Homo sapiens: one gene and its partners. The protein of the gene in region 1 interacts with the protein of each later gene in a biochemical or structural test. Each region holds a gene or a part of one and is shown on either strand. Other genes may lie near its edges. The genes, in order: FBLN5, LOXL1, ELN and LPA.

Region 1 (7,000 bases):
CTCTGCAGAGAGCCCCCACCAGCAAGAAGGCCCTCACCAGATGGAGATCCTCAACCTTGGACTTCTCAGCTTCCACAATTGTAAGAAATAAATTCCTCTTCTTTATAAATTACCCAGTTTTAGGTATTTAGGTATAAGCAACAGAGAACGGACTAAAACAAACCTGTACTATCATTTGCACATACTCTTTCTTTAAGTAAGCCCATATTTGAAGCCCAAATAAATGTATATTTAAAGTCTTACATGACTACAGCAAGTGAAAACTAGCATAAGTAGAAGGTAACAGTAAAAATAAATATACACTATTAAAATAAAGAGTGTTTATCTGCAGATGTACCATCTAATACATCAAGGATCCTCGTGTGCACATACTATACTCTGAAAATACTGGGATGGGCCTAACAATTGTCTCCACTTCTACTTCAAGTAACAGTGGTCAGGGGAGAAAGAGTCTCTTGCATCAGGAAAAGACAAGGCTTAGGCTGGGCACAGTGGCTCATGCCTGTAATCCCAGCACTTTGGGAGGCCGAGGCAGGTGGATCACCTGAGGTCAGGAGTTCAAGACCAGCCTCCCAACATGGGGAAATCCCATCTCTACTAAATACCAAAAATTAGATGGGTGTGGTGGCACATGCCTGTAATTCCAGCTACTTGGGAGGCTGAGGCAGAAGAATCGCTTGAACCCGGGAGGCAGAGGTTGCAGTGAGCTGAGATTGCGCCATTGCACTCCAGCCTAGGCGACGAGAGGGAAACTCCATCTCAAAACAAAAACAAAAACAAAAAAAAGAAAAAAGAAAAAAAAGAAAAGGCTTGACTGACAGCTAGTTGCTTGTTAAGAAAGCAGAGCTTTGCTTTCAAGTCAGCTCTGTGCCAGCCAACAATTTCTAGCCAGGCTGGGCTCTGCTTGTTATGTCTGGAAGGGGAGAGGTGGACTCTCTAGAAAATCAGCCTTGCTAGGGTACAGACAGGGGAGGCCTGAACTGTGGCTCCAGCGAGCAGTAGACATGATCCCGTATACCGAGCCATGTCAGCAGCCTTGGAGTCTGCTCTGTGCGGGGCTAGAGACTGGAGACCACATGCCTGCACCCGACAACTCACCCCCAGCATCTCATCTGAGAAACTCACACCCAATCCTACCAGAGGTAAAAGCAATGGCAAGGTGCAGAATGCAACAGCCTGTTCTCCAGCTTGAAGCCTGAAGCCATCGCTGAAATGGGGGGCCAGAAAAGAAGGCCACTGCTCTACTCTTGATTCCTCATCAAATCTTCAAATCAAAACACCTTATTTTAAAATCAAAACGTAAGCCCAGATTTCCCAGGACAGGGTTTTATTCCTCACTGTTCATCGATTTTTCAAACCATCTATCTCCCCTCTGGAGCATGGTGACGTTAGCTCAGAGAAGACAAATGATTTTGCTTAAATTAAATATAATTTAAAAGCTAAATACTTCCCCTAAGATGGGGGCAAGTAGGGCTGTCTTCTTCCGTTCATATGCCCTATGCTCTGTCAACAACAAACTATTCCATGCTCTGAGTGTCCTTTCCACACCTGGTCCTTGTTAATGCTGTTCCTTCTACCTGGAATGGCATTTCTTAGGATCCTATTCATCTTTCAATACCCAATTCAAATGTGACCTCCATTAATTTTTTTTTTTTTTTTTTTTGAGACAGAGTCTCTCTCTGTTGCCCAGGCTGGAGTACAGTGGTGCGATCTCAGCTCATTGCAACCTCTGCCTCCCAGGTTCAAACCATTCTCCTGCCTCAGCTTCCTGAGTAGCTGGGGCTACAAGCACATGCCACTACTCCTGGCTAATTTTTTTGTATTTTTAGTAGAGACAGGGTTTCACCATGTTGGCCAGGCTGGTCTCGCACTCCTGCCCTCAGGTGATGCACTCGCCTCGGCCTCCCAAAGTGCTGGGATTACAGGCGTGAGCCACCGCACCCGGCCCCATCGATGCTTTATTGACCCTGGACATAAGGTATTACTTTCTCCTCTTCTTTTGCAGAGTCCATTGCAAAAGATGGCATGCTAAGAGAATGACCCCCACAAACACTCCAAAATCTCTTCCTAGTCCTCAGAACCTGTGAATAGGTTGGGTTACACGGCAAAGGGGAATTAAGGTAGCAGCTGGAATTAAGCTTACTAAGCAGCTGACCTTGAGATGGGGAGGTTATCCTGGATTTTCTGGGTGGGCCCGATATATTCACAGGAGTTCTTAAAAGTAGAAGAAGAAGAGGCTGATTGGTCAGAGAGATGCTACAACAGAAAAAGAAGAGATTCAAAGTGAGAAACGCTTGACTCGCTGTGTTGGCTTTGAGGATGGAGGGAGGAGCCACCAGCCAAGGAAAGCAGGAGGCTTCTAAAAGGTAGGAATTGCCCTCCACTGACAGTCAGCAAGGAAACAGAACCTCAGTCCTACAACCACAAGAAACTCAATTCTGCCAACAACCAGAAGGGAATAAAAGTCTCCCTTAGAGCCTCCAGAAGAGCACACAGCCCTACTGACACCTTAATTCTATTCTGGTGGAGACTCAAGTCAAACTTCTGACCTACTGAACTGTAAAATCATACACTGGTGTTGTTTAAGCCACTAAGTTGGTGGTAATTTGTTACGGCAGCCCTAGGAAACACCAATCCAATAGAAACCTTCAAGAGAACAGAGATCAATTCTTTCACCCCTCTCAGTGCTTAGCTCAAGGCCAGGCACAAAGAAGGTGATCAATAAAAGGGCACCACTGACTTCAGTCATTCCATGTCACTGTATTCTCCCATGGGCATGGCTAATCATTGAACAACAGAGAAAGAAATAAATAGCACTGCAACTGGGCTGAATGCCTCCACCCCAATGAAGGATCCACAGTGGCTCATACCTAAACACTGTCCTGACTGGCGATCCAGGTCAAAGCCATTCGTGCACTGTGCCTGCAGGGAAGGAGAGAGGAGAAACAGGCAAGGTCATTTCACACCATAAAAGTCTTATTGCTGCAACACAGAAAGTTGGGGAAATGGAGCAAAAAAGAAAGGCCTCCAAAATACCAATACCTGTATTATAACCCCTATTTGTTCTTCTAAAATTTTTCCTTGTAATTATTTTATACTTAGAACTACTTTCTAAACTCCCCACACCAGGCCAGGCGCAGTGGCTCATGCATGTAATCCCAGCACTTTGGGAGGCTGAGGAGGAAGGATTTCTTGAGCCCAGGATTTTGAGACCGCCCTCAAGACCCCATCTCTGTGTTTTTAGAAAAACTTTATTTAAAAAAAAACTCCCTGTACCATTGCTTCATAGCTCCCATTTTTAGCAGACAGGTTTCAGGGTTTTTAATGCTGTAGTTGTGAAGAGCAAGAGGAATCATATCTGCTGAGCCTAATGTGGCATGCTCCCTGTTCATCCCCTTTCTGGGAATGAATAAGACTGCTTTTAAGGGCAATGACTCTTTCTTTAGGTGCTACCTCGCCTTCAGAGTGTCGAATATGAGTTATTTGCCCCCATGAAATCCTCTACCTGATTTTGATGTCTGTACATAAATAAAAGCTACACAGAGATGTGGTCAGTTTTCTAAGAAAAGTTGAATTGAGTAAATTTCTCCATTTCAACCTCAGCAAGATGACGACATAAAGATGCTTCCAGAAAGAGATAGATCTCAACAATTCCAGAGGGTTGTAGCTTTTACATACAACTTGAGCTACAAATGTATGTACTTAAAAAAAAAATGTGTTGGGTGGACTCTTCAGGAAGACCCCAGGGCCTGACATTTTCTAGGAGCTCCCATCCCTGGCCTTTTCTACAGCTTCGGAGGTTGGGCTTCGCTGAGCTGTTGGTTGATTTGCAGAGATGATGTATATGGCCTGCACTCCCGGGAGAGGGTTCAGGGGTCCCAGGGAGTTGGGGCAAAGGAAGTGGAACAGACGAGCCAGGAAGCTGTGCCGGGAAGCTGGGAGGCCAGGAGATCCAGGTTCCAGCCCTGGTTGTCAAGGACTGGCATAGGTTCAAGACTGCTGGACCAGGGCATGGCTTCAAATTCTCACTCTAGCCCCTACTCTCTGCGTAACTTTTCTATGCCTCAGTTTCCCCATCTGTAAAATGGGGGGGTATGTACGTAGTTCAAAATGGTGGTAAGGACGATGTATGTTAATCTATATAACGTGCCTAAAGTGCAGTAAACACGACCCTGAACCTCTGCCCTTGGGGCCTACCTGTCTTCATGTGTACACCATGAGGCTGCCTTAGAAAACCGCAAGGTCTAAAATTCTTTGTTACTCCTCCCAAAATCCTTCCCATTGCCAGTGGCCTGAATATGCTTCAAAATTCTTAATATGAAGAGAGAAAATGCTCCCCTACCTGCCTGCAGCCCTCAGCCTGCTCAGAGATAGGGCTTCTCTCACTTCTTTCCTGAGCCAGAGACACAGAGAGGCCACTCGGAGTTTTCAGGAGGGATCTGCCCACATTTCAGGGCTGACACACAGGGGTCCATCTCTCCTGTTGCTTAAAATAAAGTCCAGGATGCTGCAAGCTTCTTCCAGAACCCCTAAGGCCCTGAGCCTGGCCTCACCCACCCCCTTCTTACTCCTCTGAGGGGTTTCAGCCCAGGGATGGGCCCTCCTAGGTTTGGAGCTGAATTATGCAACACTACATGCTGGGATGTTTGGGTAACACCCACTTCCTCTCCCACCTCCTCCAGGAGGGGTGTGTCTGTGGCAACACATGCAGACCCGTGGGGGTCCTCAGGTGCCATTGCCCAGAAACACTACAGCATATTTTACTTTTCAACACTGAAGGTAGGTTGAGGCCTGCTGTGAGGGGCACAAATGAGGCCATGTGATCTGATTAAAAATGGATGCTGGGCTTAATACCTAGTGATGAATTGATAGGTGCAGCAAACCACCATGGCCCACATTTACCTATGTAACAAACCTGCACATCCTGCACATGTACCCTAGAACTTATAATAAAATAGAAAAGAGTCTTGGACTGGGAGTCAGGAAACTGAGTACCAGCCCCAGCCTTGTCACTTACAAGTCATGTCACCTGGGCCAAGTCTCACTTTCTCTGAGCTTCCACTGTTAACCTCTGAGAATGAAGAGCTCAGATGAGGTCAACTGTAAAGCCACTCCCACCCCCACAAACCTAGGGTTCCGTAGCGCAAGGCTGGACTCCCTCACCCCGGATTTTAATACGCTTGTAGATATTTTTTAAAAATAAAAATCTTACCTGTGCATTCCCAGGGCTTGGAAGACAGAGAGCCAGAATGGTAACAGTGAGTATCCTGTGGAGGTGAAAAGTCAAATATAAATGCCCAAGACAGATTCAGGTCTAGGGGAGTGTGGGTCGCATGCGGCCCGTGACGTGTAACGGTGATATCACCTTGGGCTTGTATGGGGTGGGGTGTGCTCCAGGGAGGTCATGGTGGTTCCAGACACCGCGACCACCCAAGCAGAACCACACCTCTTCTACTTGCCTCCTGCATTGGGATCATGTGTTAGATCACACTTTTTAATAAAGGGTTTGGCTGCTTCAAAAAAAAAAGCTAAGGTCAGGTGCGGTGGCTTACGCTTGTAATCCCAGCACTTTGAGAGGCTGAGGCAAGAGGATTGCTTGAACCCAGGAGTTTGAGACAAGCCTGGGCAACATGGTGAAACCCCATTTCTACAAAATTAAAAAAAAAATTAACTGGGCATGATAGCACGCGCCTAAAGTCCCAGCTACTCAGGAGGCTGAGGTGGGATCACCTGAGCCCAGGGGGTTTGAGGCTGCAGTGAGCTGAGATCATACCACTGCACTCCAGCCTGGGTGACAGAGCGAGACCTTGTCCTCCCCCCACCCCCCAAAAAAGCTAAAACCTCCCACTATGGTATTAACCAGTTCCTTGGTCTTTATTCTTTATGCGAGATGTGCTTGACTTTTGAACATCTTTATGCTGACATGATTACAGAGTGAATAAGCCATCATCATGCCCTCAAACAGTGAAAGGAAAAGAAAGTGAGAATGTGAGGCACTTTGAGTGGCACCAAAGAAAGGTGTCACAGGAAGTCACTGAACCAGAGCATTGAGTCCACATGTGTGAAAATCCCCCATCAGTGGATGGGTTGGGGTGGCCCTGTCCCCTGAAGAGTGTGGCCTGCGGGAACTGCTGCCAGCAGGTCCTGATGGAGGAAAGGACTCGGGGAACCTGCACAGCCCAGGGAAAATGAAACCCGCGGGAAAACAGGAGGAGGAGTCACGCACCCTGGGCTCAGTTCTGCCATGCACAAGACAGTGATGCTCTGGGAGTCTGCAACTCTGCCCTTCGCCACGCACAGGCTTTAATCCAGTAAGATTGTGGCCAGCAAGATTGCTTTAAAAATACAAAAGCAGCCGGGTGTGGTGGCTCATGCCTGTAATCCCAGCACTTTGGGAGGCCGAGGCAGGAAGGTCACCTGAGGTCAGGAGTTCGAGACCAGCCTGGCCAACATGGTGAAACCTTGTCTCTCTACTAAAAATACAAAAATTTGCCAGGCATGGTGGTACACGCTCTGAGACAAAGCGAGACTCTGTCTCAAAAAATAAAAACAAAATAAAAATACAAAATCTCTACTACTTCACACTCATGAGGCTATTAAAAAATGGAAAAGAGCAAGCGTTAGGGAGGATGTGGAGAAAGTGAAACTCCTGTGCACTGTTGGTGTAAATATGGTGCAGTCTCTATGGAAAACAGTATGATGACTCCCAAAACACTAAACATAGAATTTCCATGTGATCCAGCCATTCTACTTCTAGGTATATACCCTCAAAAAATTAAAAGCAAGGACTTGAAACAGGTATTTGTAAACCTGTGTTCATAGCAGCATTATTCACAATAGCCTAAAGGTGGACGCAGTCCTTCGATGGATACATGGATAAACAAAATGCAGTCTGTACACACAAGGGAATAGTATTCAGTCTTAAAAAGGAAGGAAATTCTGACACATGCTACAATATGAATGAACCCTGACTGTATTATGTTAAGTGAAAAAAGCCACT
Region 2 (7,067 bases), on another chromosome or scaffold:
GAGCCCTAACCCTTGTCACAGACTGAATCCTGACCCTGGCCATACACCACACCCTGACCATAGTCATAGGCTTAATCTCTCATACCTGCCATCCATTAATAAGTACACACTTTTAGGGAAAGATACCTCTCTGGGCCTTAAGATCTCTACCACCTTTCTCCCAGTTGATGAACTAAAGCTGAAAGCTCTAGGACTAATTTTTTTTTTTTTTTTTAATGGAAAAGGGTTGCTTCGATCTGGAGTGTGGTGGGGTTTCCTTGTGAGCTTGTAAGCAAGGGGTCCCTCTGCAAACTACTTCACATGGGGAATCAGGAGAAAGACTGAGGACCCTACCCAGCAGCATGTGCCAAAATCCCAAGCCCAGATTTTAGGCACTTCTTCTACAATGGGGGCCTAGGGACTGAAGATGGCTCCTTTGAACCAGAATCACTTCTAATCTGTGACTGTTTAATCCAGTCCACTTGAAAAGGACACTAATGATCACAGCTGCTGTTCACTGTGTGCCACTGTGAACATGCAGACATCAGGCCTGTAGATCCTCATTGCCAGCCTATGTGGAAATACCTATTTTATAGTTGAGGAAAGTAGCTCAGGGAAGTAACCCAATGTCACATAGCGAGGAAGCTGTGGAACTGGGACTGCAGAGCTCATGGCCTTGCATCAAATGACTCTGCCTTCTGCTGGTTTTCACTTGGGACATCTCAGGGAGCCACAGGATGCAGCCCCAGATCAACACCCTACGGCCTGAGCCCCACCGTAAACACTCAGCTTGGGGTTGGCACGGACAAGGCTCTTTTTGATGGGCCCTGCTGCAGCTGCGTTCGGCCATCAAGGTGACCTAAAGTGCAGGTATCTTAGGTATCTCAGGTGGCCTTGCCTGCTCCCCAGGCAGGAAAGGGACGGAGCCAGGAAGGGTGGTGGGCAAACTCTTACTGGACAATTTTGCAGTTTGTTGCAGAAACGTAGCGACCTGTGTAGTGAATGTTGCATCTCACCACGTTGTTGGTGAAGTCAGACTCCAAAACAATATACTTTGGGTTCACGTGCACCTGAGGAAGAAGAGAAACAGGGAGAAAGGGAGTCTAGTCAGGGGGGCTGCACCTCAACTGCTCACCAGAGAAGGTGGTAAAGAGGCAGACAGACAGACAGAGAGGTGACAGAGAGAGGGAGAACAGAGACACACTGCTAGAGAGACACAGAGGGGAAAGAAGAGGCAGCTGGTAATCCAAGAAAACATCATCTAATCCCCCTTATCAGAAGATTGGATGTTTCCCTAGAGCTAGAGCCTATGCCAGGTGGGCCCCGCATGGGGCATTTGGGGTCAGAGAGGTTGGATCCTGCCCGAGGGAATGCAGTAATGAGGAGCTGAGCCAGGATTCAACACCTGGTCTCCCCAAATCCAAGGCTCAAAGTCATTCCCTATGCATCCCTGTCTAGGTGACTGATCGAGGGCCTGTCTGATCCCCTGCTCTGGAGCCCCACGTGCCCAACATTCACTGAGATGATGGCCCAAGTATGATCTGTGCTTTTTGTCTGAAAAGGAGCTGTTGGGATACAACACTTTTAAATGTTGGATTAACTAGGGTAGGGCCAGCTTTATTTGCAGAACATCTAAGAACAGATGCAGGGATGCAACTTTCAAATCCTGGTACACTCCCAAAGGGCAGGGACTGTGAACTGCATTGCTTATGTGGTTTGTGTGTCTAGTGCCTAGAACTCAGAGGGGACTTCCTACATGTTGATTGAGTGGATGAATGAGGAAAAGAAAAAATATACTGGACAACCCCAGGCCCTGGAGGAGCAAGCTTGGAGCCTGCTGAAGAGCACTCAGGAGGGAACTGCAGAGAACCGCTGCCGGATGCATCTCTCCACCTGCTGACTTTCTGCAGGGAAGGCCTCCGCCTGCAAACCTGGCTTCACTGCTCTGCCTTTACTGAGCTGCTTTTCTGCTTCTGAGTGGGTCCAGATGAACTGGTGGAATGATCCCTACTCATTTTATACCTGTGTGGAGGAGGCTGAGACATGGCTTCCCCAGGTGGGCCCATGACAACCTGGCCTACACGGATGTACCAAGTCTGGATGTGTGTTGTTAATATGCTTTTCTACTTTTCCCTCAACCAAGGGAAGAGGTGATGGAGTGAGTGTCCATTAGAGCAGGAGGGGTTCAGGCTAAAAGGGTCTTAGTCACAGGAGCCCTTGGCTTTGCAGGGGTCCCTATAAGGAGCTGAGGGCCTCTCATCTGTCTCCCAAATGATACAAAGTCTGCCCTGTCCGAAGACAGGAAGATAGACCACATGGCTCTCCAAGTCTTTCTTGCTCTCCCTGGTCCTCTGTCACTTAGGGAGACAGTATCACCACTGCCTCTGGCATTACCACAGCTGGGGCAAAGGTTCCCTGGGTTCTTTATGGAAAGAGAGGCTATGTCAGCCTGAGACCTAAATCTTCGGCTGGGAAGCCTAAACCTCAAGTGATGCCTCAGATGCTGCCTCTGCTCGGCAGCTGGGGAGAAGGGAACAGGCCCAGAGGCTGAAGCTTCTTTCAGGAACGGGGGGACATTGGACATGAACATCAGGTTGGAGGGAAAGCCCCAGACCCAGAGGCCCACCTTGAGGATGTAGTTCCCAGGCTGCACGTCGGTTATGTCGATCCACTGGCAGTCGATGTCCGCATTGTAGGTGTCATAGCAGCCTGGGCTCAGGCCCTGGGAAAGGGACAAGAGGAGCGGCTGTGATGCTGCTTGTTTCCCAGAGCCACCCCACGCCCACCTTCAGGAGTTTCTGGCCCACCTTCCCCTGGGTTTCTCCCCTGACCCTGGCCCAGGGCAACTGCTCAGGGTGGGTCCACACCTTCCTAAAGCCACTGGCTAGATGGACCAGAGGAAAGACAGATATCTAATAGCCAGGTGGGAGGGACGAGATGGATGGCAGAATGGATAAAAAGAGACAGGACAGATGGACAGTTTGTGGATATTTAGGGTGGCTGATGGAAAGAGGGATATGGGTGGGTGAACAGGCCAATAGGACGTGTTGCTCTCCAGACTGTTGCGATGTTTCCTTCTCTCCACGAGCAGATCACCTGGAATAACATGGGAAAGGGGCTGGGGCAGGGAGGGAACAGTCCCTGCAGGGCAGTGTGGCAGCCTGAGGACTGGTGAGAAGACCTTCACTGTGAGCAGAGCTGAGTGGCCAGAAGCCTTGGCACTTGCCGGGCCTCAGCGGGCCTCGCTCTTTGCCTCCCCAACTCCTTATCCTCCCATGCCCCAAACCCCATCTCTCCAGCCCAACCTGGGTATGAGAGGTGCATGCATAGCGCTTGAGGTTGCCGAAGTCACAGGTGCTGTCCTCCAGGCAGAAACTGGCCTTGTGGCCCTCGGCCACCTTCTTGCCTGTGGCTGCATCCAGTAGGTCGTAGTGGCTGAACTCGTCCATGCTGTGGTAATGCCTAGGGGCAGAGGAGAGAAGGAGAAAGAAGAGGGCCTAGTCTTCCCTGGGCCTCTCATCCTGTCCCCATCCTGAGATGGGCTCAGGTGACCCTGCTGTGGCACAGCCTCCTGGCTGGTCTAGGTTCTCCTGTCTCCTGAGTACTGCGGGGTGGCCCCTCTGTGCTCCCCACCTAGCTGGGTCACTCCAGGACAGCACATGCTCTAGACCCCTCACTTCCTTTTTGGGCTCCCACCTGTAATGGCCTCACTGGGCAATGCCCTGTATTCTAGACATTTCCATCCCTGATTGAGACCAATCCTTCTATATCCATCTTCCAGCCTAGCTTTGGCTAAGGCTTCTCTGAGAAACACTTGCCCCAGTGAAAAGAGTTGGCAGGTAACACCTCCCCGGGCCCTCTAATCCAGTATCTGTGTCTCCCAGAGTGCTCATGGTGGGAGGGGAGCTCAGGCACCAAGGTCCCTGGCCCAGAGGAGAAGTGGAAGAGGACGGGCCCAGCCCCTCCCCACTCACTGGTGGCAGCTGTGCCACTCCCAGGTGTGCCGTGGCCGGTTGGGGAGGAAGTCTGCTGTGCCCTGGTTCTTCACGCGCTGGGGGAAGCGCAGTAGCACCCGCACATCGTAGTCGGTGGCCTCAGGGGCATAGGCTGTGCTGCAGGGACGGCGGGGGAGATGAGGGGGGGTTGGGGCACAGTGACACCAGAACCCAGCATGGGCCCCCTCAGCCCCACCCCCAGCCCTTGGCCACTGGTTCTGCAGCCCCACTCCTTGTCCCTGAAGATCTTCTCCTCTGTCTCCTCGAACTGTGGCGGAGGCTCAGGCCTCTTCCTCTGTCTTCTGACCCCGTGAAATCCTGGCTGTCCCCTCCTTTCTGGCCTCCACCATGTGGCCGCCAGCTGCCAACAGCATCTTTCTAAAGCGGTACCAAGCATGGCAGTGTCCCTGATACCTGCAGGTGACTCAGCTGGGGTCAGCCCCTAGGTGCAGGAGCACATAGCAATCTCTGAAGGGCCACTGAAAAACAGCCCTATTGCGGGGGCCAGGCACTTTGGCTCATGCCTGTAATTACAGAGCTTTTTGGAGGTCGAGGCAGGAGGATCACTTGAGGCCCATAGTTTGAGACCAGCCTGGGCAACATAGTGAGAAATTAAAATTTAAAAAATTAATTTAATTAAAGAAATTTTTAAAAAATTAAAAAATTAGCCAGGTAAGGTGGCTTATGCCTGTAGTCCCAGCTACTTGGAGACTGATCCCTTGAGCCCAGGAATTTGAGGCTGCAATGAGCTATAATTGTGCTGCTGCACTCCAGTCTGGGCAACAGAGTGAGACCCCCTTTCTAAAAAAAAGAAAAAAAAAAGTCCTATCCAGGAGATTCTGATAAGTCTCTGACAACAAGACAGAGCCCTAATTGTTGACCAAAGTATGCCATGTCTTGGGTGTGGGCCTGAAAAACAGACGTGAAGTCCTCTGGTCAAAGCCTCTTCACTTTTCTAGTCCCATCTGCCCTTCCACTCCCCCACACACCCTGGGTTCCTGCTTCAAAGCCTATTTTCCAAACAGGCTGAACTTTTTCCCTGACCCATACTTTTGCCCATGCTGTTTGCTTGACCCAGAATTCCAAAACTCACCCAGTATCCTAGGGTCAACTCAAAAGTCCCCTCCTCCAGGAAGTCTGCCCTGATTGCTCTACATAGAGGATCCGGATTGCCTGTGAGCTCTAACAGCACTGACTGCAGCACAGCCCGATACCATCTACATCTTGCACTGGGTCCAGACCACCTCTCCCTGATTGCATGGCTTCAGGCTGGCAACCTGCCCTTTTCCATTCAGGGAACATGGGTCTGGTATGAATTGCCTGCTCGCAAGTCACCTGCTGACTCCAGATTTCCAACTGAGGTAGGCCTTGTGACAAAAGGAAAAGGGTGGAAAGAGGAACGAGGGGCTGCAGTGAGGGGAGACACACACACATGCACACATACACACACATGCACACACATGTGTGGTAGGAACAGGAAGGGGTGGCTGAAGGCCCCTCCCCTCTTTAGCTGACGGCTGACAGCTAACTCTGTTGGCCTCAGGGGCTCTTCCCTGGCACTCATTAAGGTCCGATCCTAAGGCCAGAGGGGAGCGGTGGCCAGTCGTAGGGATTAGCGCTCTCTTTGAGAGAATGTCTGGACAACAGGCGGCTCAGACTGTCTGCCAGGATGAAAGGCCCTCAGCCTTGTCTGGGGGAGGCTTGGAATCTGTCTATGTCTGGGTTGAAACAAAACATCCTCCTTCCCTCTGTTCAGTTAAATCCTGCCCTTCTGTTCGGCTCAGCACACCGTGGGAAACCATAAGGGTCTAGGTTCTAGGCCCAGCTTGGCCACAAACTGGTGGTGAGACTTGGAATTGGTCCCTTTTCTTCTCTGGGTTCTGCCTGCAGCATGTGAACTGGCACCAGCCTGCGGCCCATACTTGAAATGATCTCAGAGGGCCCTCCTGCCCCAGGGCTCCAGTTTTGCAGGATTCTCCAGGTCTGAACTCCCACGCCCACCTCCTCTGAGGCCTCAGCCCTTGCTGATCCCTCCCTCCTCTGACCTCCAGCAGCCCTGGCCTGTGAACCAGTCCTTCTGGCTCTTTTCCCACTCGTGTCTTGGTTCTGTCACTGGGGTACAGGTGAGGGCTGTTCTCTCCAGCTGTACCAGGAGACCCTCCAGGACAGAGGACAGGCTGCCTCCTCTCCCCAGCTGGGAGCGCAGGTCCGGGCACTCAGGATCCTTCATGAAGAGGCAGTGATGTTAATAGTTTGACTTTGACTAATTCTCTTAAGACTGGAAGGGCTGTCATGGAGGCTGTAAGTTCCTCATTGCTGGAGGAATTCCAGCAGGACCATTATGCTCTCTTCCCCAAGACAACTGAAACAAGACAAGAACTGCCCAGACAGGCTGGCTGAGTGGTACTCAGCCTGCGGTCCCTGGACCAGGGGCAGTTCCCACACTGATGCCAGTCTGGGATGGGATTGGGAACTTGCACCAGAATGTACATCGACAACATTCCTAATCACTCTGCTTAGTTCAGCGGATACTTTTTCTTTTTTTAAAGCAAGACTTTCTCAATGAAGGAGTGAGTTGAGTTACATTCTAGTTCAAGCTCTTTATCTTGTTACAGACAGATAAGGGTTTATGATCAGCTACTTAGAGTGGCAGTGAACTAGAAGTTCTAGAAATGAGAAAATGTTGAGATTCTAAAGAGTTTCCTAGATAGTAAAAAGTCAAACTAAACAGAGAGTTCAAATGTCCAAAAAGCAGGTAATTAAGAAAAATAGGTGCTTTCAACATAAAGGGATATTAACAAAAGAAGCAGATAACATAATCTTAACTAATTATTTTGGCCCAGGGAGGTATCCGCAAAGCACCTATGTTCCAGCAGAATATGAACTGCTTATAAATTAGAAGCAAACACTGCGAGAGGCAGGATCACCCATGAATAATGGCGAGCCAGCTGTGCTCACCTTCTAGGTTCATGGAAACTGGTCTCCTTCCCCTCTTTCCAGTGCAACATATAACTGAAACTTCTTTGTCCCCCGGGCTCACTGCCCCTGCTGTGACTAGGCAGAGGCAGCCTGGACCAGCCAAAGCCACAACTG
Region 3 (4,235 bases), on another chromosome or scaffold:
GACTGTCTTCTGCATTTTCTTAGGTCAGCCATCTTTCCTCTCTGTCTCTTTCTGTTTCTCTCTCTCTCTCTCTCGAGACAGGATCTTGCTGTCTCACCCAGGCTGGAGTGCAGTGGCGCAATCATAGCTCACTGCAGCCTCGAAATCCTGGGCTCAAGCGATCCTCCCACCTCAGCCTCCTGAGTAGCTGGGACCACAGGCATGCACCACCACCAATCTTGGGTAATTTTTTTTTTTTTTGTAGCTATATGGTACAAAGTGATTCTCCACTGGACAGCTATGTTGTCCAGGTGGGTCTCAAACTCCTGGCCTCATTGTTAAAGTACAAGCCAAACTTGGAGAAAGATCGATGCCCCAGAAGCCAGCAGCAGGGGCTTTTGGTTGGGCAACCTCTCAAATACACTGTGGGTGGTGGAGGTTCCCTGAAGCAGAGCCCTTATCCCCATCCAGGCCAGCGAGTTGAAGGCAGATTAAATCATACGAAGGAAGCTAAGACACAGTTTCCTTTAAAGGTTTTTCATTTATTAGTCATTTCTGAAGCAGTTAATTCTCTTTTCTTATTAAAAAAAAAGGTGTGTTTCATCCAGAGTTATATTAGAGTGATTAAAATGTTTTTTCTACTGGGGATACAGCTCCCCGGATCAGAAAAAAAAATTATCTTTTTTTTTCAATGAACCACAACAATAAAACCAAAAGAGAATATCAACAATCAAAAATAATCCCCAAATATCCAGGACAAAAAATAAAATATTTATTGATCTATCACAGCGAGACACAAAAAGATGGGCGGGGCAGGAATGGGAACTGCTCTGAAGTTCAGTGGACCGAGGGAGGGATGGGGGGTATACAGTACTGCATGTGGGGACACCCCGGGTGGGGAGGAGATGCCTGGCACCCCAGTCTGCACAGCCCCGCACGCCCTGGGGGAGTGTAGGATGGGGGTGGAGGCAGGGCACAGGCGGCCATGACAGGTCAACCAGGTTGATGGTGGGTGCACCCAGCCAGCTAGTGGTGCCGGGCGGTCAACTGGGGACATGGATGGACGGACCGATGGATGAATGGACGGATGGGCGGATGGATTCTACAAGGGCAAGGTGGCTATTCCCAGTGTGGGGTGGTTTTCCAACCCAAAAGCGCCCCAGATGTGGGGAACAGCGATCGGTGGGGAGGAGACGGCCAAGTGGACCCAGGAGAGGAGGGATGCTAGAGCGAATCCAGCTTTGAGGCTTCAGGTGCTTGGGTACCAACTGGATGGCAGCCAACGGTGGGTCCTGGTGGGCAGGGGGAGCTGGGACTGCCCAGGAAGTGTCTGCACCATCTTTAGAGGAGCCCCAGGTAGGGGGTTCCCCGAGGGGCCACCCTTCCCTCCTCCCTCCCCCCAGGAAGATAAGAGCACCAGCGTGTAGCACCAAGTTCCCCTGGAGATGGAGGCTGTGTGGAGGGGGAGCTCCTAGGTGGGAAGGGATGGGGTGGGGGGCCAGGACCACATGGCCCTTGCCTCTGAAGTAGGGGGCCTCCTGGTCGGGGCACTTGGCCGCTCCCCTCTTGTTTCCTTGCCCTGTGGATCTGCAAGGCCGCCCGGCCTGCCCGTTCCCTCCTGGGGTGGGGAGTCGGAGGGGCATGGGATGGGGTTACAAAGGGTTTACATTCTCCACCAAGCAGTAGCACCAACGTTGATGAGGTCGTGAGTCAGGGGTCCTAGGAAGCTCATTTTCTCTTCCGGCCACAAGCTTTCCCCAGGCAGGCCCCACCTGGACGGGAGGAGGTGCACATCACTGTGAGTCCGGCCCCTCTCAGTTTCGGCTCTAATCCCCGCCTGCTCTGACCCACTCGAATGGAGGCTCCAAGAAGCCAAGAGAAGCCAAGTCATGGCCCCAGGCCAAACTCAGACCTGATCCATGCCATCAACTTCCACTGGACAGATGGGGCGGGAGAAGCCCCCAAGATATTACTTGGATGAAACCAACGCTCGCAGAAAAGGGGGCAGGTCATGGGGCCTGGCTGGGGAAGGACGGGGCCTGGCACTGGCTCCTGGCTCCACTGCTCCAAGAAGCCTTTCGGGGAAAGGCTAAGAGCAGCTCCATCAAGGAACATGGGATGAAGGGAGAGTCAGTGTCTGCAGGAGACGGCCCTCTCAGGGAGTGGGGTGGACCCATACATCTGAGAGGGCATCAGATAAGTAAATCAAGGCCCAGTAGAGGGAGAGAGGGTCTTATCCACATAGTGTCTGAGCTGGGACTCAAACCCAGGATTCCTACCCCCTCCTGGGAATAGTCTGATGGGTGAACCCTGTTTCAAGGCATCAGTCTGTATTAGGTAAGGCACCATTGTCTAGTAGCGCGGCCCGGAGCAGTTCCTAACCCTGCTTGAGCCAGATATGGCTCCTTACCGCCACCTGGTGGCAGTGAGCAGAGAGTGGGGCAGGAACAGACATCTGCCTCTGAAGGTTTTTTTTTTTTTTTTTTTTTTTTTTTGAGACGCAATCGTCTTGCCCTGTCATCACCCAGGCTAGAGGGCAGTGGTGTAGTCTCAGCTCACTGCAACCTCCGCCTCCTGGGTTCAAGCAATTCTCCTGTCTCAGCCTCCAGAGTAGCTGGGATTACAGGCGTGCACCACCACACCTGGCTAATTTTTTTTTTTTTTTTGAGACGGAGTCTTGCTGTGCCGCCCAGGCTGGAGTGCAGTGGCGCAATCTCGGCTCACTGCAAGCTCCGCCTCCCGGGTTCACACCATGCTCCGCCTCCCGGGTTCACACCATTCTCCTGCGTGAGCCTCCCGAGTAGCTGAGACTACAGGTGCCCGCCACCATGCCCGGCTAATTTTTTGTATTTTTAGTAGAGACGGCCGGACGTGGTGGCTCACTCCTGTAATCCCAGCACTTTGGGAGGCCGAGGCGGGCGGATCACGAGGTCAGGAGTTCGAGACCAGCCTGGCCAATATGGTGAAACCCCGTCTCTACTAAAAATACAAAAATTAGCTGGGCGTAGTGGTGTATGCCTGTAGTCCCAGCTACTTGGGAGGCTGAGGCAGAAGAATCGCTTGAACCTAGGAGGCAGAGGTTGCAGTGAGCCAAGATCGTGCCACTGCACTCCAGCCTGGGCAACAGAGCAAGACTCCATCTCAAAAAAAAAAAGAAGACTATAGTATTTTTAGTAGAGACGGGGTTTCACCGTTTCAGCCAGGATGGTTTCCATCTCCTGACCTCGTGATCCACCTGCCTTGGCCTCCCAAAGGGCTGGGATTACAGGCGTGAGCCACCACACCCGGCTAATTTTAGTATTTTTAATAGAGACAGGGTTTCGCCATGTTGGCCAGGCTGGTCTTGAACTCCTGACCTCAGGTGATCTGCCCTCCTCAGCCTCCCAAAGTGCTGGGATTACAGGTGTGAGCCATCACACCTGGCCATGAACTGTGTTTTTAAAAAGCAAATGTTCCCTGTGTTTATAAGAGGTCAGCAAGAAGGAGGGGAGGCTCTACATTCAGCTCGGGGTCCAGCCTCGTGTGACCTGAGGCTGTGGGGTCCACCCCTGGGTGCTGGCTCAGCCCTTCTGAGCAGGAGATGGCACAGGAGAGGAGGGAGGAGGTGGCTGCAGCTCCAGGGCAGGGCCCAGGGGCAGGGAGCCTGGCATACCTGGGAAAATGGGAGACAATCCGAAGCCAGGTCTTGCTGCCACTCCTGCAGGAGAGATTTCAGGTTGGTGGGTTGGTAGGGGTGGAAACTGACTCCAGCCTCATCACTTTCTGCCTGCACTGGCTCACCCAAGACCTCTGTCTGGGATCACCTCCTCTCCATCCCCCCCACTATATAATTTTTTATATTTTATTTTATTATTATTTTTTTGAGATGGGGTCTTGCTCTGTCACCCAGGCTGGAGTGCAGTGGTGCGATCTTGGCTCACTGCAACCTCCGCTTCCCAGGCTCCAGTGATTCTCCCGCCTCAGCCTCCCGAGTAGCTGGGATTACAGGCGTCCACCACGTTTGGCTAATTTTTGCATTTTTTTTAGTAGAGACAGGGTTTCACCATGTTGACCAGACTGGTCTCGAACTCCTGACCTCAAGTGATCCACCCACCTAGGCCTCCCAAAGTGCTGGGATTACAGGCGTGAGCCACCACGCCCAGCCAATCCCCCTCACTACAGCCAGAGTGGCTTTCTCAACACAACATGCCGCCACCTAGCAACCAGGTGTGGCACCTCATGGCCTCAACCCTGAGCTCAGCCTGGCACTGTCCCCA
Region 4 (7,153 bases), on another chromosome or scaffold:
CCTTGACCACTTTGAGGGGTGTGGTGGGGGCCACATGCAGATGGAGTGGGTTAAAGAGTGACTAGAAGAGCAGTGGGGGTGGCAGCAGGAGAGAAGCCTGGCTCTGAAAGCAGCGAGACTTCTAGGGAATACAGGGTCAGGGGAGGTTCTGAAAGATGACACACTGCAGAGAACATGTGTTTGTATGCCGATGACAAGTATCCAGTAGAAAGGCAGATGAACAGATTCTCATTCTCAGAAAGGCCTGTCCTGACCTCCTGAGAGTACACAGACCATGAGGGCAGGGCAAGGAGGAGGATGCACGCTCACTGTTTCATGCAAAGTCCTTGGCCACAGTCCACCTGCTCCCCACCTCTGTGACTTTGTCCTTCCTCAATTTAATATGCTCTATGCTGGAAAACTGGATTATTGAACAGGCATTGGCTGATGCATTCTGAACCTAATCCACTAAAAAGCACTTGATAGATATATCAAAATATCATTGAGAAATAGATATTTTAGGCCCATATCCATGTCTTCACCCCGCACTGTTTCTCATTTGAACTCTCTTTTCCAGGAAGAGTTGTGCTTGGGTAAATTCTATAGCTCACAGTGTGACTTCAAAACACACAATAAATTAATAAGGTGCTTCCTACAGTGAGTTCAGTTAAACATTTTGAAGAGTGTTTTTGAAATGTAGCAGAGCAGGCTACAATTGATATTCAAAAAGAGGAAACTTCCATTTATTTCCCCCTTTAACTAAGTTACCTGTAACTGTGTCATTTTATTATGCTTCATAGAGCATCACTGCTGAGATCCCCTCCCCAGCTCATGTTGCTAGGAAATATCCCAAAACAGAATCAATTTTTCTTTTTTTAACCTGATGATTTTTCCACAATCCTTTTGTTTCTCTGATTCACCTCCAGGGCTCATATGGCAATGGGGATTTAATAGGGTTTATTTGTTGGTGAAGAAACATTAAACAAATCTTTTAATAGGAAAAATACTTTTATATTATAGGCAAAATGTAGATGTATATTGCTACTGAAGTAAATGTATTTTATTAATGGTGTGAGAATTTCTTCCTCACTGTGGTGTGTGAATGTGTATGCATATTTGCATGTGTAAAAGACTTAGCAATTTGTGAATAGAAGATGTTTCTCCGCTTCTCACTGAGCATGGCTGTAAAAGAAACTTTTTCCTCTCCCCGGGCATTCCAGCACACATTGGAAAGATAACACGTCCACAGAAAGCCTGGCTTTCCAAAAGAGCTTATCAGAGAATGTGCCCCCCAGGTCGATTAAAACATATGTTAATCCTGTGGCAGAGAAGTTTGTTCTAGCCTTTGGGTGTAGCCTGCTGAATAAGTTCACAGTGATCTACATCCTAGTTTCCATGGGCTGAAATAGAATATTCATATCCCCTGCACTCCCTACACACACAGACATAGACACCAATTTCCCCAAAAAACTCTTTGCTTAATCTTCTCCTGCTCTGTATTTTCTTTGATATTTTCTTGAATGGCTTCCACTAAATTCAAATGTGTTTGACTTTAAAGTCAACTTGTAAAATTTTATCTGGTAATTTATAGATTAAATTGCAAGCATCTACCTCCCTTTCATCAGACTCTCCCTGCAGGGCAAGTTCATCTAACTATGTATGTGCTTCAAGATGGAACTCCTGAGTTCACAGGTGATTTATAAACCAAAGCATGCCCACTACAAAACTCTCACCCTCCAGAGATTTGCCTCAAGGGACAACACCCTGCTCACAAAGGCACCAGCAGGCAACTGCTCAACTACCTGGTGGATAAGGTGCCCAAGCTAGCATGGACCCCTGAATCCTTGCTCGCCTCCTCTGTTGCCTTTTAAAAGTGCCACTTTCTGCTCCTAAAGTGAAGTAGTACGGCAGGACTGCTGCATTTCTTCCCCTAAGCTAGCTTTGGAAGCAAATCACTTTCTTTATACCAGACTTCTCTCTTCTTAATTGGATTCTGCAAGTGGCAAACAATTAACCTGCTCTTCAGTTACATTGGAATGTGTTTAGATTTATTTTTTCAAATGTTGGAACAAAGATGAAAAAGTGAGAAGAGCCCTAGATTTTTTCTTGGAAATCTGGCTTAAATCCAGGTTTCTTTATTTCCTTGATTTGGGAATTTGGTCACGAGACAAATAACATGATTTTCCTAAGTCTAGATTTCTTTGTTTATAAAATGGGGATGACTATGCTACCCTACCTATACCATGAGCTAAATAAGCTAGTATTTGTAAAGGACACACACTTACATTCACAATCACACACGGTGTGTATGTGTGTATGTATGTATAAAAATGTGGGGACCTAACCCACTCAACAAATACCCTGAGTATTTGTTGAATCATTATATGCGTATATCATCTGGCAAATGGATGTGTATAATTTCTCCAGGGATAAGAAGCAAATGTATACCGATGGAAAGCCTTACTCAGGCCATAACAAAGAGAGAAATGCTGAGTCCCACTCCATGAACAGGTCAAGGAACCAAACATATTCAAAGAGTTATTTCATTGTTTCAACTTGCTAGTGAGGGGAGCATGGCACCTGAACAGAGATGATATAAATTAATGAAACTGAGAACCAAGCGAAGAGCTTAGCCATCCTTTGCATAGTTAGCTACAATGGCTATTTATTTTTCAGCCAGACTGGCCATCATGTAGGCACACTCTTTTAGATTAGAAAAATCAACCATTATTTTTTCTGCCCATTCATTCCAGCACCGTGACAGTCTTCACGGGGAAATTAAACTTATTTTTTTAAGAATTTTTCAATCATATACAAGATTTTGAACTGGGAATTTCATGAATCAAAAATTAAATGAATTGCACATAAAGCCATGGCATATGTATTTTTACTACATTGTGGGAGAAAAAATAATTCTTATAATTTAAAAAAACTATGTCTTACCTGATTTCAGAAATAAAAGAAGTAGAAGAACCACTTCCTTATGTTCCATTTTGGGACTGGCCAGCAGTGCCCAGAAAGTGTGTCCCAATCCCAGGACATTGTTGACTTACATGAGAGTAAACGCACCCACAAACCAGATAGTCAAATTAAGTTAATGATTCTCTCAGAGACCCATGCCACTGGCTCAGCAGGGTTCAAACATTACCTTGAATATAGAGTCTTATAAAATATTTGAGAGTGCAATGTCAATAGATGCTGGGAAGTGGTGAAAGCCATTTCCCCCCTCAGCTGCTCCACATTGCCTTTATGTCTCCTTACTCCTTCCCTCACCCCTAGACCTTCATCTTTCCTGATTAGTCTTGTTTCCTCCCCTCTTCTTTCATTCTCTTTCTTTTGGATAAAATAAAATCATAAAAGTAGCTCATATTTGCTGGTAACTTCCATGACCAGACCCTCTGCCAAGTGCTGCACATCCATAGCCTCCCTCAAGCTTTCCAACAGGCAGTGCTGTACGAGGAGGGGGCTGAGGCCTTCCCGAGGTTGTGTCGCTACCCAGGGGTGCAGCTGATAGACACAACCCTTTCAGGTCTTAGTTTACGAGCAAGCTAGGTATAAATGTTAACATCTCCACATCCTATACCAAACTGTGCCGAAATGACAACATAAGTGAAAATCTTTTATTATCTTCAAAATTTATTTATTCCTAGTGAACTCACATGTTTTCTGTAATTATAAATTATGTTATAAGATATCAATCCTTCCAGGAGGGGGTGGTGGCTCATGCCTATAATCCCAGCATTTTGGGAGGCCACGGCAGATGGATCACCTGAGGCCAGGAGTTTGAGACAAGCCTGGGCAACATGCCAAAACCCTGTCTCTACAAAAAATACAAAAATTAGCTGGGTGTGGAGGCACATGCCAGTCATCCCAGCTACTAAGTAGGCTGAGGCACTAGAATTGCTTGAACACAGGAGATGGAGGTTGCAGTGAGCCAAGAATGTGCCACTGCACTCCAGCCTGGGTGACAGAGCAAGAATGTCTCAGGAAAGAAAAAAAAATAATAAATACCAAATAAAATTAATAAAATATCAATCCTTCCTATTCTAGTAGTTGTGGCTTAAATAAATAAATAAATATTTTTAAAAATAAAACATAGGGTCGAGTGCGGTGGCTCAACTCTGTAATCCCAGCACTTTGGGAGGCCAAGACAGGTGGATCACAAGGTCAGGAGTTTGAGACCAGCCAGGCCAATGTGGTGAAACCCCATCTCTACTAAAAATACAAAAATTAGCCAGGCGTGGTGGTGGGCACCTGTAATCCCAGCTACTAGGGAGGCTGGAGTATTCACTTGAACCCAGGAGGTGGAAGTTGCAGTGAGCCAAAATCACGTCAGTGCACTTCAACCGGGGTGAGAGTCTCAATAAAATAAAATAAAATAAAATAAAATAAAATAAAATAAAATAAAAGCATAGTATCAATCTTTCCGCAAATGAATTCATGGTGCAATCTTACATTTTCGTTCTCATGAAGTAAAGCAAGAGTGGTAGAATTAAGTGGAAAGAGTCTATCTCTAGTGTAGTCACGTCAGTGGTTGTGTCAAGATGGTTAGGAGGCTCCTCCCGTTTAAAACAGTATCCAAGCCCCAGTTGTAAATCAATTGGGGAGACACGCCAACTCTGATCATCAGCAATATCTGAGCTCCAGTCTCAGATATTGTGTGCAGTTAGTCTCTGTCCTGTACCCTCTACCTCCTTCCCTACCAGAAAAATCACCACTTTAGTCCCTGGCCACCGGGACACCCCAGGAGGGTGAGTGGTCTGAGGTAGTTATGGCACTTATGGCTCCCTTGCTGCTGATCTGGAACTCAAGCCCCAAGAAGTCCCCTTGGATGATCTGAATATACATTTGGGACAGATCTAGGGAGTTTCTGAGCAACACTTAGACTGGGGTCTTCCATTGATTAAATCCTACTTGAATTCGCTACTTTGGGACTCAAGTCTAAGGGACTGAGACTGAGACAGGAGAGCACAAGACTAACTTTGGTCTCTTGATCTTTTCTTACCTTGCAACTGTCAATGCCTCCAGCCAAATGCCCAGCACAGAGCTCAGTGGATTTGACTCTTCCATTCAGAAACTCATAGCGATTGCACACTTCATTCTCAATCACAGGGAGCTGGGCTTCCTTGAGAAAGCCAGCCCCAAAGGTACCTGTGTTTAAAAAGATGAAAGAAATGGTAACTACGTCCACAACATGTTCACAAGGAAACTCCAGAAGAACAGAGCAGTGGTGATGGACCTCCTGTCTGTCCGTGAGGCTGTAGAACACAAGGCAGCTCCCAATGCTGCCAGACTCTCTGAACCCTGGAGAGTGTAAACGTCATATAAGAGTCTATGTTCCAAAAACCTGGATTTAACAATCTGAGCTTTGTCATGGTGCTTTGCGGTTGGTTGTTGTTTCTTTACCTTTTTCTTTGCTTTTAAAACCATAAAGAATAATGTTTAAATGTAGAGTCTGAGAAATGCAATTGCTATTGTTTTTATATTTTCAGACTTTTTGTATGCTTCTTTCACTAATTACATCATATCACAAAATTTCACACCCTGATTTTTTCACTCAACATTACATAATGAGTTTTGTATAGTGCTATGATCTTCATAACTAATATTTTAAAGGAGAGCTACTGATTAATGAGCATGAGGTTTCCTTTGGGGATGAGGAAAATATTCTGGAAATATGATGATGGTTGCACACCACTGTGAATGTACTAAATGCCACTTGGTGGTACCCTGCAAAAATGGTTAAAATAGTAACTCTTACGCTGTGTACATTTTATTGCAATAAAAAAGAATAGTCATCATTTACTAAGCATTATCCTTTCCAGGCACAAGCTTATAATGTGGTGTATCTCACTTCATCCTCACAACAGTCCTATGAAACAGGCAGTTCCATCACTCCTGCTCTACAGTTAAGGAAACTGAGGTGTAAGGAGGTTGTCTAGTTCAACCTGAGCCTGGGTCTGCGGAGTCACTGCCCAAATGCTTCCTCCCCGTGCGCGTTGGCCCCCCTCTTGCTTCCAACCCTCCACATCTTTGTTCATAAAGTTCATTCTTATTCCTTAATATTTTCTGAGCCTAAGTTCCCATAAATTATATAGACATATTTCTGTCTCCCAATAACACTGCCAATTTATTTTCTAGAAGGTTATGACAGTGTAAAATGTCACTAGAAAACAATCACTTCACCACACTTGTATGAGTGTTCAATTTTTAAATATTAGCTAATCTAACAGGTTGAAATTGTCCTGATTCATTTTCTAATTTATACTTCTTTGACAATTTGGGAGAGTGAAGATTCTCCTGGTTGTGTTTATTCTTTTGTGAAAAACTGCTTTATTTTCTTTGCCAAATTCAAATAGAACGGTTGCAAAATTGCCAGAGGAAATGCTGTTTTTCCAGATGGACACACCCAGGGATGTTTCAGTGTTCTCACAAATAATCCAGTTTTCTAATTTTGCAAGCCCAGCTTTCATTAGAATTTTGCAAAAATCCTTGCTTTGCGAGCATGGCACAGGCAAGAGATGAGGCACTCTCTCTTTCTTCCCCCAGAGCCTTTGACTGCACTTAGATCATTGACTTTGGTTCAGAAACCTGACTGCATCTGGAGTTGACATGAGCAGCATGGAAGATGTTTGTCCCAGCACCTCACTCCAGAGGCCAGCTCAGCTCAATCTGGGCAGAGCTGCATGATGGAAGTTTCTGACTACCAAGCATCGGGCAGAGGGTGCATCACCTGGACTACATAGTTGTGTGAGGGAGCACCGTTCTCTAGAATCTGCTATTTGAGCAAGGCAAACATCCTGATAATGGTGAAAACCTACCGCAAGTTGCCAGGAAAGTTGATGTGGTCTGCGAGTAGGTGCTGCCATCCAGTGGCCGACATAGAGATGTCATCTCTGAGGGCAGGTAGGCCACAGGTGACAAGAGGATTGAAGCCCTCCCTGATGGGGCCTTGGGGAGAGGGCAGCAGGGTAAGTCCAGCGGCAGGATCAGTCCATTGATTGTGGATGACGACTGACCTGGAAAATCCCCTTGGCCTCAACACCTCCAAACTCTGCATTTGATCCAAGTCAGGGAACACCTGGAAACATGAAGGGGAGAGCAGGAAAACTTTGACCTCCCTCTCAGAGGCTGAGAACGCCAATTGACCTGATGTCATTATTGACATGTAGAA

What was found.
Region 2: the proteins of FBLN5 (region 1) and LOXL1 form a complex in vitro, tested with the Homo sapiens proteins (2 studies listed by BioGRID and IntAct).
Region 3: the proteins of FBLN5 (region 1) and ELN form a complex in vitro, tested with the Homo sapiens proteins (one study listed by IntAct).
Region 4: the proteins of FBLN5 (region 1) and LPA form a complex in vitro, tested with the Homo sapiens proteins (one study listed by BioGRID).

What each region holds. Positions count from the first base shown.
Region 1 is NC_000014.9:91,937,695-91,944,694, forward strand, and holds part of FBLN5 (fibulin-5 isoform 1 precursor), read right to left. Parts: intron 5,268-7,000; coding exon 5,213-5,267; intron 2,923-5,212; coding exon 2,871-2,922; intron 2,257-2,870; exon of another isoform or gene 2,156-2,256; intron 759-2,155; coding exon of another isoform or gene 636-758; intron 1-635. UniProt on the Homo sapiens protein: Essential for elastic fiber formation, is involved in the assembly of continuous elastin (ELN) polymer and promotes the interaction of microfibrils and ELN. Stabilizes and organizes elastic fibers in the skin, lung and vasculature.
Region 2 is NC_000015.10:73,943,441-73,950,507, reverse strand, and holds part of LOXL1 (lysyl oxidase homolog 1 preproprotein), read right to left. Parts: intron 4,092-7,067; coding exon 3,954-4,091; intron 3,442-3,953; coding exon 3,285-3,441; intron 2,702-3,284; coding exon 2,606-2,701; intron 1,050-2,605; coding exon 934-1,049; intron 1-933. UniProt on the Homo sapiens protein: Catalyzes the oxidative deamination of lysine and hydroxylysine residues in collagen and elastin, resulting in the formation of covalent cross-linkages, and the stabilization of collagen and elastin fibers.
Region 3 is NC_000007.14:74,066,173-74,070,407, reverse strand, and holds the end of ELN (elastin isoform a precursor), read right to left. Parts: intron 3,677-4,235; coding exon 3,632-3,676; intron 1,752-3,631; coding exon 1,708-1,751; 3' UTR 501-1,707; downstream 1-500. UniProt on the Homo sapiens protein: Major structural protein of tissues such as aorta and nuchal ligament, which must expand rapidly and recover completely.
Region 4 is NC_000006.12:160,661,244-160,668,396, forward strand, and holds the start of LPA (apolipoprotein(a) precursor), read right to left. Parts: upstream 3,033-7,153; 5' UTR 2,972-3,032; coding exon 2,923-2,971; intron 1-2,922. UniProt on the Homo sapiens protein: Apo(a) is the main constituent of lipoprotein(a) (Lp(a)). It has serine proteinase activity and is able of autoproteolysis. Inhibits tissue-type plasminogen activator 1. Lp(a) may be a ligand for megalin/Gp 330.